Homo sapiens: one gene and its partners. The gene in region 2 interacts genetically with the main gene of each other region. Each region holds a gene or a part of one and is shown on either strand. Other genes may lie near its edges.

Region 1 (3,655 bases), on a different chromosome or scaffold from region 2:
CCAGCGCCACCTGGCGGCCGGAAGTGCGGGACTCGAGGGCTCTGCAGCAGAGCTCCGTGGGGGCGTCAACGTGAATTCCAGCACGGCAAGGTTCTCTAGCACCCCGGCCTCAGCCTTCTGTCTATACAGTGGAATTAGGAAGAAAATAATTAAAAGAAAAAAGAGTTTACCTATTCTCTGTCCTCTGGGGGTTTTTCACCCCATCTCTACGGCTATTCATCAAGAGGTTTATTAAAATTTTCCTACATGAGCCAGAAGAAAGAAAAGTGTCGTGCTGAATAATAACTAGCATTTGGATTGAATTCTGTGGTCCAGGCACGGTGCATTAATGTATCATATGGTTTACATTCATTGTCTTATTTCATCTTCAAAACGAGCACATATCATGCCGTGGTTATAAGCCTCAATTTACAGATGAAGCTTAAAGAAGACAGCTACTCATCCAAGGTGACATATTATATTTTACAGTTGAAAAGATCTCTTAACACTTACCACTTACACTCACGATCATACTGAAGCCTCACAAACCTGTGAAGTAGAATTAGTGCCTTAGGTAGGCTTAAGATCACACAGATGGCAGAGGTGGGATACAGTTTGAGGTCTTCTGACTCCAGATCTAGTGATCCTCATTAGCCCACCTAACAGACTTGGACCACCCTAGACCATAAGCTGTAGAATCAGCGTTCAAAGCCATTCTGCTCACCACTTTTTAGCTCTATGATTTCTAGGCAAATTACTTAACCTCTCTATACCTAAGTTTTACATCTGTAACATAAAACCTATAGGGTTGCTGAGAAGCTTAAACAAGTGTCTGGTAGTAGTAAACAATTTATTTGGTTTTGCCTATTAAAGACATCGTTCTGAGGAATAGGTTTTATCTTGCACAGTTGAGCCAGATCTTTGTACATTCAATTCAGTTCAATCTGATGTCTAAAGACCAGTAAAAATATTTATAGGTAACAGACAATACATTTTGACCCTTTAAAACTAATCCTTTAAACTTTATGTCATTAATTTTAAAACCAAAATAAATGTTAGCAAATCTCCTATATTCTCTTTAGCAATGTTATTTTAAGATCTTTTTTAACCAAAAATTATTGACCAAAAAGTCAATTAATTGCACTGTGTTTTCTGGCTCATTTTAACATGCAAATGGTGGCTAAATGGATTGCTAAATTGTGAGTCACTTTAGTTTGTAACCTAGTTTGAGCCTCCTGGACTCATGCTCAAGTAAGTAAACTACCCAATGAATGTGCTGAGCCAGTTGTTGGTTCGCCACTTATTGTCCACTCAGCAACCTGTCAGTTGTATATCCTTTCTACACCATCCGTTGGAAGCTTGTCCTGATGAAGCTTTTGCTAGTATCCAACAAGTTGAAACAGATGCTATCTTTAGTCAGAGTATTCAGAACCAGTAAGCAAATTACTAATTTCAGTACTGCTATTGAGAAAGACTGCTTTGTTCTTTTTCAGAGCTTTGGCCCTTGTATCCTTTTACTAGTGTGTATTTTGGGAAAGTGATGAAGTATAAGCACATTTTTCTCACCATATTAGAGCTGATGGGAACTGTACACTTGGAGTACCCAGCTGTATGTGAAACTGCATCTAGAAAAGAATCCTGATTAAGTAATTCCAGCTAGGAACTAATATCTATAATATTTTGTTAGAAGTTGCTTCATAACATTCATGTAAGCATCTTCAGAATTTGAACACTAAAATCTTATTTATGATCCAGGTGAAAAGAGAGAGGATTTGAGTTAGCAGCTAGAAAAGCAAAGTTTCAGTCCAAGATTTTTCCACTGGGAAAAAATCACATCTCCCAAGGAAGGTAAAAAAAGAGCAAGAATTGAAAAACAGTATAAAATGCAAAAAACAAAACAAAAAATCCCTATTTTTATTGATACAGCATGCATGAGAATACTATGAATCAAACTTAGGACTTGGGCCAGTCACAGTGGCTCAGGCCTCTAATCCTAGCACTTTGTGAGAACAAGGTAAATGGATTGCCTGAGTCCAGGAGGTCAAGACTGGCCTGTGCAACATAGGTAGATAACTATCTCTACAAAATGATTTTTTAAAAAATTAGCTGGGTGTGGTGGTGCATGTCTGTGGTTCCAGCTACTCGGGAGGCTGAGGTTGGAAGATCGCTTGGACCTGGGAGGTGAGGCTACAGTAAGCCAAGACTCTGCCACTGTACTCCAGCCTCGGTGACACAGTGAGACCCTGTCACAAAAACAAAACAAAAGAAAAAAACCAACAACCTCCCACCTCCCCACACACCAAGATGTATCTATAAGTTTTTATTTTTTAAGACTCAGCAGCTGGGCGCCCTGGCTCACGCCTGTAATCCCAGCACTTTGGGAGGCCGAGGCGGGCGGATCACCTGAGGTCGGGAGTTCAAGACCAGCCTGACCAACATGGAGAAACCCTGTCTCTACTAAAAATACAAAATTAGCCGGGCATGGTGGTGCATGCCTGTAATTCCAGCTACTCGGGAGGCTGAGGCAGGAAAATCGCTTGAACCCAGGAGGCAGAGTTGCGGTGAGCTGAGATCGCACCATTGCACTCTAGCCTGGGCGACAAGAGCGAAACTCTGTCTCAAAAAAAAAAAAAAAAAAAAAGATTCAGCAGCAGGCCGGGCGTTGGGGCTCACATCTATAATCCCAGCACTTTGGGAGGCTGCGGTGGGTGGATTGCTTAAGCCCAGGAGTTCAAGAGTAGCCTGGGCAACATTGAGAAATCCTGTCTATACACACACACAAAAAAAACCCAGAAGCAATAGCAAATTGTTAACATTTGTTAAATCTAGGTGACAAATACATGAATTTCTTTTATATTCTTTTTTTTTTTTTGGAACAAGGTCTCAGCTCTGTTGCCCAGGCCGGAGAGCAGAGGTGTCATCACAGCTCACTGCAGTCTCGACCTCTGGGGCCGAAGGAATCTTCCCACCCAAGCCCACAAAGTAGCTGGGACTACAGGCTCACAGCACCACACCTGGCAAATTTTAAAATTTTTTTGTAGAGACAGGGTCTCACTATGTTGCCCAGGTTGGTCTCAAACTTCTGGGCTCAAGCGATCTTCCTGCCTCAGCCTCCCAGTGTCGGGATTATAGGTATGAGGCATTATGCCTGGCCTATGTTTTTTTTTTTGAGATGTAGTCTCACTCTGTTGTCCAGGCTGGAGTGCAGTGGTGCGATCTTGGCTCACTGCAACCTCCACCTCCCAGGTTCAAGCGATTGTCTTGCCTCAGCCTCCTGGATAGCTGGGGTTACAGGCACGCACCACCACACCCGGCTAATTTTTGTATTTTTAGTAGAGACGGGGTTTCACCATGTTGGTCAGGCTGGTCTTGAACTCCTGACCTTGTGATCCGCCCGCCTCAGCCTCCCAAAGTGCTGGGATTACAGGTGTGAGCCACCAAGCCCAGCCTTTTTTTTTTTTTTAAATAAGATCCAAGTACTTAATAAGATGTAACAGTCTCAATAGAGAACATCTTACATATATGGAGAAATTTCACTCAACATATCCCTTTTGTAGAATTAAAGTTTGCAAGGTAAATGATTTTATTTCTTTCTTTTTGGTTAATATTTTTTAGAGTTAGCATTTGGAACATAGTGACATGCAAGCACATGGGGTAAGATGAATTAACTATCATC
Region 2 (3,655 bases):
TGTACTCAAATCACAGAATTAAACCACTTTAGAACTGGATGGTAATACCATGCCATTATCGAATCTTTTTCATTTTATTAATACAAAAACATGATTTCCAGATATCTTAAATATAAAAATGGGATAAGGTCAGACCATCCTAAAACAGTGGCCACTTCATTTTACTCCTTTTAAATATAATCTTCATTTGGCACCCAAACTCTTATGACGATCAAGTATACTTCTCCCAGCTTTAATTTCTCCATAGTAATAATCACTAACATACTACGTATTTTGTTTACTTCATTATCCATTCACTCCCCAACCTCCACACCCACCCCAGAAAGTAAGCTCCATGAAGGCAGTGAGTTTTATGGGCTTTGTTAGTACTCTATCTCTAGCGCCTAAAACAGTACTTGGCAATAGCAGATAATTAATAGTTATAAGATAAAATAATTAAGAATATATACCTATCTTTCCTTTAGCACTGATGAGACCAAAAACTTACAAGCGCTTGAGAACATACTATCCATACTTACTCTTCTTCTAATATGACTACTTCAAACAACTAAACTTTAAGAGGTTCTACTTTAACTATAGTTTTTTCTTTATAACTTATTCTCAATTCATCTTATTTTCTAAACTCTTTGAAAGAAAGTAACATTCAACACTGATACCCAAAATGAATGCACTCATTTTCTATACAGTAATTACCTTATTAAGAAGTGGCTGTAATTTGGTTAGTGCTATTACTGTAGCTTCTATCAGAACTTGACTGTTGTAAGTGTCAGGTCCTTTTAAGCAACTCTCAAGTGCCTTTTAGGAAAACAGAATTTTTTATTTTACTTTCATTGAAATAAAACATTAACTCCTAAACTGAATCTCGGAATGAATTCAGGAACATTTACTTATTTAATAAATGCTAGAATGATTTCTCATGCTATGGTGATCTTGGTAGCTAGCTTAATGTACATTTGTTTTCTTATTTTTTGACATTTCTACATTATAAGAGTCAGACATTATTATAGTAATTACAAATTAAATAATTTTATGCAAGGCTATAGTCTTACCATATAATTAAATGCTTTGAAAACTGGTAAAATACTAAGTGTACCTGCTTAGCAAAAGAGGCAACATATTTTATTTTAAAGACATCTTCCTTAATGAAGTAATCAGAGTTTACATATAAAGACAGCTTCTTTAGAGAAGACTTCTTCAAAGAATTACAATAAATAATCAAAATACATTTTAAAGGCTTAATAAGTAACATATAAGATATTTCATTGACCTCAAATTTAAACGTCTTTTAGAAAAATGAAAGATATGCTTTACAACTTGAGAACCATAAATATTTGGGAGAAGTGAGGGCGGAACAGGTACCTTGCTAAGAATACGGATTATCTGCTTTATCTGCCCATGAGACACTCGTTTGCTAATACACCCAAAGACAACAAGAGCTCTTGGTTGCAGGGATGGATTATATTGGAATGCAAATCTGCAATTAAAAGATCCACAGAACTTATAAAAACCTTTGTGTTTATATATACTAAATAATAAATTATAACATTGATCATACAGTAATAGCTGTATTTTCAACAATATGCATATTTTTACAACTTATATTTAATTTAGGACATACCTTTGAGCTAGTTCTGTCCACTGGTCCAGCCACTTGCACGTTGGAATATCTCTCATGCATGCCTAAAAAAGGGGATACTCTGAATACATATTGTACATAAATGTTTTTAGAACTGTTTAAATAATGTTTATTATGATGTCATTAAGTGACCTGTTACCAATAACACAGTCCATGCAAGTGTTTTTATTTAAGCATTAAGTACAAAATAGCACAATAAACCAATATTTCTTCTATATAGTATTAACATATTTTTAAAAAAAGATTTTAACTTAGTTTCTTATCATTTTGGCTTCTATACCTCCATGATCTCCAACAAAGCTTCTGTGACTGTTTCCAAGGATGTCAAAGCAAAAGTCTCTCTCTCATAGGAGCCAGGAGAGAATGACCTGTCCCGGTAACTGGAACGGAAGGCAATGACAGCAGCTGACTTGACTTTGCTAATGCCAAACAGCAAGTAAAATTTGGGTAATGAGAACTCTGTCAGACTGAGTCTCAAAACTTGCTTGGTCTCTTCTGTAAGAGAATAAAGGAACAAGTAAAGACAGAAAATATTACTTTTTAATTTCTAAAGTTCCATGTTTCATTTTGAATTTAGAAAATTTGAATACCATATAAAAATTACATAATCATGTTCCCTAAATCAAACCTCTAGATACATTGTATTAATGCTCCTTGCTTCATTTATCTACAAATTAGTGCTGGTAACTGAACATGGTCAACTGGCACTGAGTATTCCGCTTATGGGATAACTCTACATGACAAGTATGCATAGAAAATCTTTACTATAGCTTGATATGGAATGGAAGTAATTTATTTTCTTTTTGGTAATATTTCATGTCATTACTGGAGGCTTAAATTAGCAACTTGGTGTTAGAGCACAAACATAAATAAGATAATCTATATTGATCAGGTGAAGTAAAATGGAGAAAGGAACTGGTAAACACAAATTCCTTTCCTAGAACTTACCACTAAAATGAAGCTGTGAACAAGTACACAGAGAGTGAATGATATTAATGACCAGTCCATGTGTGGAAGCTCTAAGGGAGAGCGGACCTGTGGCTACTAAGAAAGTAACAACGTGGAAGAGGTAGGGAAGATGAGCTGCCACATCAAGGGAATTGTTGAAGGACAGCATCAGCATGTAGCGTGCTAAAATAGCAATATCATCCCACATAAGATGTTGTTCTAAAGTAGGAGTTGGAGATAAGCATGTCTTGTCAATTATTTTGCACATCCTTCCAATAACCTGTAAAGAAGCAGGATTTTTTTTTTTAAAAAAAAAAACATGGGACTCAAAGTTTTAGCACAAAAAAGTTCAGTTTAATTTAAAAGTAATTACAAAACAAAAAACCTCCTGATGATAAAACAGATATGCTATAGTACAGAAGGCAAAAGAAAAGTGATTACCTTGCTTGAAACCAATTTCACATTTCCAGAAGCCAAAGCTACAGCAGTATCTGCCATCACCTCAGCTTTTATTGATCCCAAGCCACCTGTTGCACTGGTTTTGATGAAACTGTCTAGTACAACATCAAGCAGATCTGTAATCTAGTTGAAGAAGGAAAATAACATGTTTTTAATCACTCTACCAATTTAATTTTTAATTAAAAAATATTCATTGGAACAGCCTAATCAATATGAAAATTCTATTTTACCTGAGGCCTCAAAAATACTAGATTTTATTTACAGGCCTGTCAGTAAATACAATTTATTATAAAATATCCAGTAAAGGATGAGTATATTCATTTGACTCCTTCAGAGATTAAGAGATTGGTATTCAAAAATTTTAAATCTCTATCAATACTATCTTCAGTCACTTGCAAAGTATCTCTATGCTTTTCTAAGACAGTAATGTAGCATCAATATAAAATAGTAATTTGAAAATACAGAGCTGGGTGCAGTGGCTCACGCTTGTAATCCCAGCACTTGGGGAGGCTGAGGCGGGCGGATTGCTTGAGGCCAGGAGTTCAAGACCAGCCTGGGCAACATGGCAAAACCCTATCTCTAAAAAAAAAAAAAAAAAAAAATACAAAAATT
Region 3 (3,655 bases), on a different chromosome or scaffold from region 2:
ATACTTATTTTTATAATATTAAAGTTTTACTTTAGAAATAAAGCTTCCAGATTTCCTCCCACATACACACCCACACAATATTTACTATGAAATACTGGATCCCATTATAGGGAATTCATTTTTAGTATTCTTTCCCTGAAACTATTAATTATCCTCAGAACACACTCTCCTATAATTTAGTAAAATAAATGTTTCCAAAGTCTCAATTAGAAATTCAATGTCTCTTAACTGATTTTTACCTTTATACTTACTTACTTTTATGCTATTTACCATAATCTATAGAAACAGAAATGTGTTAGTGATGTAACTGCAACATGACCTCATTCTGGTCTTTCCAGGTAGGCCTGATACTAAATGCCCAACCTGCTTTGTTGAGAACTTCTGCCAGGCACCTGTGCATCAGCCTCTCAACGTAAACCAATCCGAAAGGAAGAGAGACGCAAGTATCTCAGGGGGGCAGGAGGGAAGAGCTCTGCAAAGGGCAAGTGTAAAAGGGGCACTTAGGTTGCAATGGCTCGATTCTCACAAGGGCCTTTCTAATTTGTGTTGCCCTTGGCCCTAGATGACTCTCAGGACGGAAGGAGCTTTAAATAGAGGTGGCTATTGGTGACCCTTGTCCACACACTTCTATTGAAATTTGAATAGCTCTCAGGGCACTAAGGGAAAAGGAGGAAGATGTCTTTAAGCTGGAGAACAGGGAAATATGCTGAACCTTTCAACAAAGTCAGGTTCATGAACACCAGGAGCCTTTTAGGACTGTATATTAACATTATTAATACAGGCAATAGGGCCTAAGAAACTCTTTGGCTGAAAATTATGTTAGCTTTTAGGTTGCAAGGACTGTATATTAACATTATTAATACAGGCAATAGGGCCTAAGAAATTCTTTGGCTGGAAATTATGTTAGCTTTTAGGTTGCAATACAGCTTTAGAGTGACATTCTCATAATGTATCCCCCTCAACCCAATCTCTCCCTGCAGATGCTGCAAAAATTACCTGGAGCACAACATAACTGGTATTAGTACAGGGCAGGCAGAGGGAATCTACCTCCTGTCAATCAATAGCTGAGATCTGCAAATGGATGTAAAATTTCCAGGAAAAATTTCAGAGGAAAACATTATGGCTTTAGTTTTAGGAAAAAAAGAACTGAATTACAGAGAAAATGGAAACATTTATTTTTATTTATTTATTTTTTTATTTTTTGAGGAGGAGGAGAAGGAAGAAAGGATGGGATAAAAAGCTGAGCAAGAGGAGAAAACAGCAAAAAAATTTACTATTTACATCTTAAGTGCTCTTATAAAAGTAATAGGTTATTTTCAGAATATAAAAGTTGAAAATGTATTATGAGCAGCTTGATGTACTCATGAAATTATCATATTTGAAACATTCAGAAATGTCAAGGTTCAAGGAAAAACAAAAAATTTCAGAAGGGAAATAAAATCTCTTCCTATTGTTAATTCCTTCCTGCCCCTCAACAGCACACAGTTAGTTTCGTAGGCTTCAGTCATGCCAGGCCTTTGGCAGTTCTAACATTTCTGCCAGGTACAGAGGTGGAACAGAACAAATACTTTCAGTCCTGCTCATGTGCCCTTGTCTCTCAGTTGACAGTGATACTGAACCCAACAATATGGCAAGCACAGACCAGAACTAGGGAAAATACTGAGTACAATGAAATGTGCTTTTGGTGCCAACTTCATCCAATCGATTTTAAATGAAAACACAGCCCAGAAGACGTGTTTGGATTTGCCTGTAGGACACATCCTAGAAGTTCCAAGGCCTGTCATTATCTTGGTTGCCCAATCGACACTACATGGAGCTATGCCAACTAGGGCAAAAGTAAACTCCTGTGAAATAGTTTTTAAAAAGCCAAGCTGCCTTACGTGCCATCTAGTTGATGGGAACAAATGAGTAAGCAAGGCTACTTCCAGCTAACAAAAGTCAAGTTATGAAATTAGTTCTCTGCAACATGTTGAAATTTTAAATTAATTGGAAGCCATGATATCTAACATTACTAAAAATACTATCAGCCACACTTTGCTGATCTCTATTTTCCTAACACAAGAGACAATGTCCTAAACCAGCTCAAATAATTTATTTGATTTACAGTAAAGTATGGATATACACTAATATAGTGTATGTCATTTGATTTATATTAGAATTCTTTTACATATTAAATAACACATTACCCAAGCTGTAAAATCACATTTTAGGTCAAATGTAACTCAATAGATTTTAAAGGCTTTTGTAAAGTAACTTCTATTAATTGAAATTCAAAGTGATTCTCCTATCACTCTTTAAACAACATAAAGTTTGTTTTACTCACCTCTCTAGCCACATTGCTTGTTTTCACTTCCTGAATAACTGTACCAAAGATGATATAATCAACTACTTCCTTAGGGACACTGGTCCGATGCAACAAACCCCTGGAAGTAGAAATCCAAAGCAAAGAAACATTTCACACATCAAGGCAGTGCCAGAGATCATCACACAAAACACTGCGCTCCTTGAAAAAGGTTAGCCTTGAATTTAAAAGGACAGAGACTGTATCTTTTCTTTAATTTGACAAGCATTTGGCACCTTCTCAAAGAAGAAATGAATGAAAGAGTGATTTTAAAAGTCAACATTTGATGCTGAATTGGTAATGAGAAGTTAGAGAATAAAAAATAATTTGGAATAGAATAAAATAGATAAGAAACCTATAAATTAATGTTAATTAATGTTAGTAGAAACCAAAGTTTGCAGTGAAAAAGAGAGACAAATATTCAATCAAAGAGATAAAGCAAAGTCTCCCTTAAGACTATTAAAAAAAATTAAAAAAAAAGAAGTCCTGGGTATGTTAAATTTTAGTTTGAAATATCAGTATCAACAAATGATTGAAATAATACATATATTCTAGTTGTGCCCATGAATAGAAACTAGACACAATAACACTCCAGTAGGAATGAGCACTCCCTGAACCCAGACTTGGTTTCCTTTTTTTTTTTTTGAGATAAGAATCTTGCCCTTTCACCCAGGCTGGATGGAGTGTACTGGCACAATCTCGGCTCACTGCAACCTCCACCTCCTGGGTTTAAGTGGTTCTCTCACCTCAGCCTCCTGAGTAGCTGGGGCTACAAGCGCCTGCCATGATGCCTGGCTTATTTTTGTATTTTTAGTAGAAACAGGGTTCACCATGTTAGCCAGGCTGGTCTCGGACTCCTGACTGCAAGTGATCCACCAGCCTTGGCCTCCCAAAGTGCTGGGATTATAGGTGTAAGCCACTATACCCGGCCCCAGATTTGGTTTCTAAATGCCATTCCCCATTAAAAGGACAAAAGGTTTTTTAAGAAATGACTGATACCAGGTCCAGAAGAAAGTACAAAGTGAATTTCCATCTTTTTTGTGCCAAAAGTAAGGAAGCACTCAAAGACAAATGGGACCATATCAGCCGGGCACAGTGGTTTAAGCCTGTAATCCTAGCACTTTGGGAGGCCGAGGCAGGCGGATCACTTGAGGACAGGAGTTCGAGACCAGCCTGGCTAACACAGCAAAACCCCGTCTCTACTAAAAATACAAAAAAAATTAGCCAAGACTGGTGGCATGTGCCTGTAATTCCAGCTACTCGGAAGGCTGAGGCAGGAGAATTGCTTGAACCTGGGAGGCGGAGGCTGCAGTG

The links.
Region 1: changes in NF1 (region 2) and NDUFC1 together harm fitness more than expected from each alone (negative genetic interaction), as found in Homo sapiens cells (one large-scale study listed by BioGRID).
Region 3: changes in NF1 (region 2) and HADHB together harm fitness more than expected from each alone (negative genetic interaction), as found in Homo sapiens cells (one large-scale study listed by BioGRID).

Annotation. Positions count from the first base shown.
Region 1 is NC_000004.12:139,295,840-139,299,494, forward strand, and holds part of NDUFC1 (NADH dehydrogenase [ubiquinone] 1 subunit C1, mitochondrial precursor), read right to left. Parts: intron 1,605-3,655; 5' UTR 1,546-1,604; intron 529-1,545; exon of another isoform or gene 493-528; intron 122-492; 5' UTR 1-121. UniProt on the Homo sapiens protein: Accessory subunit of the mitochondrial membrane respiratory chain NADH dehydrogenase (Complex I), that is believed not to be involved in catalysis. Complex I functions in the transfer of electrons from NADH to the respiratory chain.
Region 2 is NC_000017.11:31,335,844-31,339,498, reverse strand, and holds part of NF1 (neurofibromin), read right to left. Parts: intron 3,167-3,655; coding exon 3,026-3,166; intron 2,865-3,025; coding exon 2,585-2,864; intron 2,132-2,584; coding exon 1,917-2,131; intron 1,681-1,916; coding exon 1,619-1,680; intron 1,475-1,618; coding exon 1,360-1,474; intron 796-1,359; coding exon 694-795; intron 1-693. UniProt on the Homo sapiens protein: Stimulates the GTPase activity of Ras. NF1 shows greater affinity for Ras GAP, but lower specific activity. May be a regulator of Ras activity.
Region 3 is NC_000002.12:26,272,419-26,276,073, reverse strand, and holds part of HADHB (trifunctional enzyme subunit beta, mitochondrial isoform 1 precursor), read right to left. Parts: intron 2,424-3,655; coding exon 2,324-2,423; intron 1-2,323. UniProt on the Homo sapiens protein: Mitochondrial trifunctional enzyme catalyzes the last three of the four reactions of the mitochondrial beta-oxidation pathway.